2 separate regions of the Homo sapiens genome follow, and region 2 is linked to region 1. Evidence: fine-mapped expression QTL. Tissue or cell type: whole blood. Region 1 holds a variant in brackets; the other region holds the start of a gene. All regions are shown on one strand. Distances are from middle to middle.

The links. PIP is the estimated chance that this variant, and not a neighbour inherited with it, causes the effect.
Region 2: it holds the start of PAQR8, and the variant in region 1 is fine-mapped to the expression of PAQR8 in whole blood (INTERVAL, PIP above 0.99).

Annotation. Positions count from the first base shown.
Region 1 is chr6:52,414,066-52,416,830 of GRCh38, forward strand. No RefSeq gene overlaps it. Among named protein-coding and RNA genes, the nearest start is that of EFHC1, 4.9 kb to the right of the region's middle. RefSeq lists a silencer at 2,526-2,765. The variant T/A (reference allele first, on the strand shown) is at 1,038.
Region 2 is chr6:52,360,816-52,363,580 of GRCh38, forward strand. PAQR8 (progestin and adipoQ receptor family member 8) reads left to right here and starts at 1,336. Exons shown (of 2, transcript NM_133367.5): 1 at 1,336-1,434. RefSeq lists silencers at 740-925, 1,099-1,588.

The sequences.
Region 1 (2,765 bases):
GTGTGATATTTATTCAGAGTTGGTAGGTGGGGGGTGGGTAAAAAGGAAAGAAAGACTTAACTCACACAAACCAAACCCTTCTACATGTTGCATTCTCTAAAGTGCCCAACATATTTCCCTACCCCCCTTTTCTCCTTTCTTTTTACCTTAATCTGTCTTTAATTTTCCATAGTTTTTCCAATTCCCAGTCACTGACCAAACTGTCCATTCACCATGCTCCCCCAGACAATGGTAATAGCAAACAGTCAGTGAGCGCTTACTATGTGCCAGGCACTACAGTAAGTGCTAACATATATGAACTCATTTAATGCTCACAACAACCTTGTGAATTGGGAATAACAATTATTATTCCTGTTTATGGCTATTAAAAGGTTAAGAAACTTCTGCAGGGTCACAGAGCTGGTAAGTGGTAGGATTTGCAACTCTGCAGTCTGACTCTGCAGTCCATAATATTTTATTTTTATTTTTTTATTACGAAAAACCTTGAGCATATACAAAAGTAGATAGAATTGTATGATGAATTCCCATGTAATCACATACACAATTATCAAATCATGGGGAATCTAGTTTCATCTACATCCCTACTCACTTGCTTCTGTCCATATTATTTTGGACATTATATAATTATATAATATATACTATCTCATATATTATATAAGATATTATATAATATCTATAATTTTATAGATGTTATATAATTTTTCCTACAATACATGCTTTTTATGTATCCTTAAAAGATGAAGACTCTTTACACAAGAATACAATATCATTATCATGTCTAAAAAACTGAAGAACAATTCCTTACCATCAAATATCCTGTGTTTGAATTCCCAATGGTCTCACAAATGTGATAATTATTTCAAAGTATTTAGTTTAAATCAGGATCCCAATAGGACCCACACATTGCAATTGGTTGACTTTTTACTTAAATCTCTTTCTAATTTATAGGTTTCCCTTCTACCCCAGTCTTTTTACTCCTTTCCAATTCAGTTGTTGGCCAAACAATCATTTGTCCTGGAGAGTTTCCTACAGTCCAC[T/A]CACTTTACCGCTACATCATTCTGCCTTTGGGGTACTATATTGTAGACTTTTCATTCCATAGATTTTAAAGAGGGGAAAACTCAATGAAGTGATTTCTAGACTCACTGGAGCTTTCATGAACTACATGAAATTATAAGTACATGTGAATGTGTGCATTTTAGGGAACCAAAGTCTAAAGCTTTTACAAGATTTTAAAAATGATCCCATGACCCTCAAACAATTAATGGTCATTAGCTCTGGTCCTGGCTTTTCATTTTAGAGATGAAAAGCAGGAGACTTGGATAGGTAAATTGTCCAAACTCACACAAATATTCTTAACAGGACAGGAATGTGGCTCTCAGGACCTAACCTGTTCTACTTTCTGTTTCATGCTGCATATGTGAAAGGGGAAAAGGAAAGTGGTTTGAGATGCTCAATAGAAGGTGTCAATTTCCCTATTGTTTCAAAGTTGCCATTTACCTGAATTAATGAATTCACTTCTTGTCCACATTTGGAATCTAAAACTCTAGTCAATGTTACTACCACAACATTCTCACACTTCTCTTTCTCCGTACTATTGAGAGCTTTATTATGCCAGAGATGTCTCACAAGCAGGATGCCAAGATCAATGATCTGTCCTGAGCTAAATGAGGACTGTCTTTCCTAGATGTCAGAGGATTGAGGTGGAGTGTAAGAAATACTCAATTGGGAACCAGTCATTAATTGATAGTTCCTTGATCTCTTTTGGTCTGGAGATTTCTCATTAGTAAAATGAGCTAACCGGACTGTGTCAATTACTTTTCAAGCATTTTGACTGTGATCATGATATACTCTCACTATGAATGTATATGTATGTATATATCTTGAAAAAACTTTCACTGAATTATTCTTACAAACAAAATGGAATGCATCTGGATAGTTTCTATTCTATTCTTTTTTAAAAATAATTCTCGTTGTGGTCACAACCTATTAAGTTGATTTGAAGAACTGCTAAAGGAAATCTGCAGCAGTTTGAAAAATACTTTCCCACGTGACCGCTGAGTCATTCATTCATTAACTGTAGTAGGTCAGTAATTTTCCAACTATTTAATGGACATCTATGTAGTGCTAGGCACTGTGATGAGAGTTAGGAAAATGGCAATGAAAAAATGAAGACCATCTTCTTATGACGCTTATATCCTGTGAAGTATGTTCCATCAGCTTTGACAAGGAAAGAGAATTCCAACGGAATCAGCTAAAGCTATTGAATAGGTTTGACTTAAGGGAGGAAAAAGCAGCAGAAATACAGGTTTTTCCAAACCCCAGGCAGGAGCCCACATCAAGACTAAAATAGTCTAGACCCAAATGATGTAATTTTTGTGTCAAATGAAGATCTCCTGTGGATCCTAAATCTAATCACTGGATGTTTCTCCTTTTCCCATACTTTGCAAAGATCGAAGTGGATGACTGGGCCCTCTTTTTAGATAAAATATTTCAGAGGCCATGGAGTGATGGAAAGGAATGCTAGAGAGCACTCTGACTGAGGGACACCCCCTGGCCATATTCACGTGCTCACCACACCCCCAAGTACCTGCAAAACCTGCAGGTATGTAATTGGTTGTTTTCTTTTCCAGAAATTTTGCTGTACCATTTTTACCCAGCAGAGGGAAGCAGAACACCAAATCACTGCAGAAGTAATCCAGGACACATGCACACACAGCCCTTTGGTATTTTTTGTCCTGTGAATTTAGGTATTATAGAATGAGAAT
Region 2 (2,765 bases), 53 kb before region 1:
GGCCCCTGGGCTCTTTCCTGGCTCTGACTCAGCTTCAAACCTGCCGTGCAACTGCTCAGAGTCTAAATGTCTTCATTTATGGAACTGAAATAATCCTGCTAAGATTACTTTCTTTGCTTCGTGATGTTTGCCTGAGAATAAGTAGCTGGGACTACAGGCGTGTGCCACCACGCCCATCTAATTTTTGTATTTTTTGCAGAGACAGGGTCTCACCTTGTTACCCAGGCTGGTCTCGAACTCCTGGGCTTAAGCAATCTGCCCACTTTGGCTTCCCAAAGTTCTGGGATTACAGGTGTGAACCATCACACTCGGCTAAAATGTTTTGAAAAATGGAAACATTGTACAAATGTGAGATGTTGTGCAACATGTCACTGAAACACGGTGGTATAAGAGAAGTTTTGGGAACCAGCAGACCAGAATTAGGCCTGAGAAAATCTTACAGTAAGCAGACCAGAATTAGGCCGTCTGAGAAAATCTTACAGTAAGCAGACCAGAATTAGGCCTGTCTGACAAAATCTTACAGTAAGCAGGCCATCTTCCCAGGCCTTCTCTTTTCTCCAGATAATGAAGAAGGCTTTTTAAAAGCAAAGCCAACTTGATTTGTTAATTGATCATCCAACTTCTTAACTGTCTTTTTCTCATGGTAAAATACCGAGAACATTGTGGGTGAGGAGCAAGTCGGGAGGTGGAACCCACCCCCGCACCCTGCCTCCAATAGATTGTATGTGTGGGTCGCTATTGCTGGGACCCACGAAGGCTGTGGATTGAGGACACAGGGTAGAAGTGGGATCTTCTGCAGGTCAGTGTCAGATGTGTCTGTGTGATGTAGTCATGGGAGAGGCGCGAGTCTTGGGCGGGTGTATCTTAGGGGTGTGGAAGTGTCTGCAAGGGCCTCCGTGGTATGTCATCACATTATTTATATCATGGGCATGACCCTGAACGTTCACCCGAGAGTGGTGAGAGAAAGGCCAGGATTTAAATCAGTCTTGACAGCGCAGATGAAGTTTGTTATTGTTTTCCGCCCTTCCCGAGGGACTTCGGAAATGGCCCCCTGAGAGGTGAATTCTTGGAAAGAATATGAGGGCGGTTAAGGCGTCTCTGTCTCAAACTCTCCGGATTTTTTGCAGCTACCAGGGACTGCGAGGGTCTGCGTCCTGGGTGGAAGGAAGCGGCGTCAGTCAACTTCCTCGCAGCGGCGGCAGCGGCGCGGGCTGCAGCGGAGCGCGCGGGTCTGCGCATCCCGCCCCCGGGTCGGGAAGGGGCGGAGCTGGGCGTCACCCGCCCCCGGCGGTCTCCTCCTCCCGGCCGCTCCCCCGAGCCGAGCCCGCCGCGGTCACAGCCACCCGCGGGAAGCTCGTGGCCGGGACCCCGAGGCGGGAGCGCGGGCTGGGCCGGGCTGGGCTACGCGCACGGGCTCGGCCGCCGCCCCTGCCGGTGAGTCCCGCCGCGGGAGGCGCGGAACGGGTCGAGTTGGGTATTGGGACCGCGAGGTCGGGGAGCCCCGGGGCCCGAGCTCGGGAGGCGGGGACGTCAGGATCGCGGCGTTGGGGAGTCCTCGCACCCCGAGCTCAGAGGGGAGGTCCAGAGTCGCAGCGTTGGGAACCTGAGGCCAGGGGCCGGAGTTTAGGGCCCCGATGTTGAGTCTCCGAATCCAAGCCCGGAAGGGGGGACGACGGGTTAGGATGCTGGGGAGCCCTGGAGCTCTGAACGGCTGTAGTGGGGTGGCCAGGACTGCGATGCTGGGGAGTCATGGAGCCTGAGCCTGGAGAGCTGGCGGGGGTGTGGGGACCGCGATGTTGGGAAGGCTGAGCCCGGAGGGCGGGAGATTCAGGACCAAGACGTGGGGGAGTCCGACAGGGCAGAACGAGGGGCGTCCTGTCCGCATTTGTGGGGCGCCCTCCGCAGGGCGGAGGGGAACGGAACCTGGGAGGGGAGTGCGGAGGAGAGGAAGCCCGGGGCGGTAGGGAGAGCCCGAGGAAGGGCAGCCCGAGGTAGGGGAACCCCGGAAAGAGTAGGGTGGGTCTAGGCATGTGCTTTCGCCGGGGAAAGATGGAGGGGGCTTCTCTGAGAGGGTGGGCGCGAGGAGCGGAGTTGTGATGGGAACCGCCGGCAGCTGGCTAATGGGCGGATGCTGGGGCTTGGCTGGATGGGAACGCCGCGGTGGGGTGTCGGAGGTGGCTGGTGGGGCTGGAACGCTGGGAACGTCTGTCTAGGCTATGAGAACGCAGCGCCCTCGGTGGAACAGGGTCGTAGATAACTCGAGAGGGAATCTAGTCTAGGGAGCAAGACCGGGCATCCCCAGACGGAGGCGGGTGGGGACCTCGCACTCAGCGCGCTTGGGGAATATTCGGAGCCTGGGTTTGGGGGCTGCTGCACCTTGCCGACCCGGTGCGGGGACCTGGAGGTAGCCGGGCACAGCAGCTTCCTGTGCAGCTGTGGGTGCTCCAGGCACTGGCAGACTAGTGGGAAGTCCAGGAGCCTTGGCAGGCTCATTGTCTTGACCTAAGTTGCATTCCATATTTCTTAGCTGGGTTAGAAATGATTTTGTCCAGGAACCCAATGAGAAGAGCCTGGGCTAAAAAAATTAGTTATGGAGTGAGATTTCAAATGTACAGGTAATACCTACCCGTGTGTGTGCGCGCCTTAGGGATAACTCATACAATACACTGTATGTGTGATTTTTAGACCCACGTGTGTACTACTTGTTCCAGTACTCTGAGAAGCTGTTTCTGGGTAAAAACGAGGAAAATCCACAACAAATACAC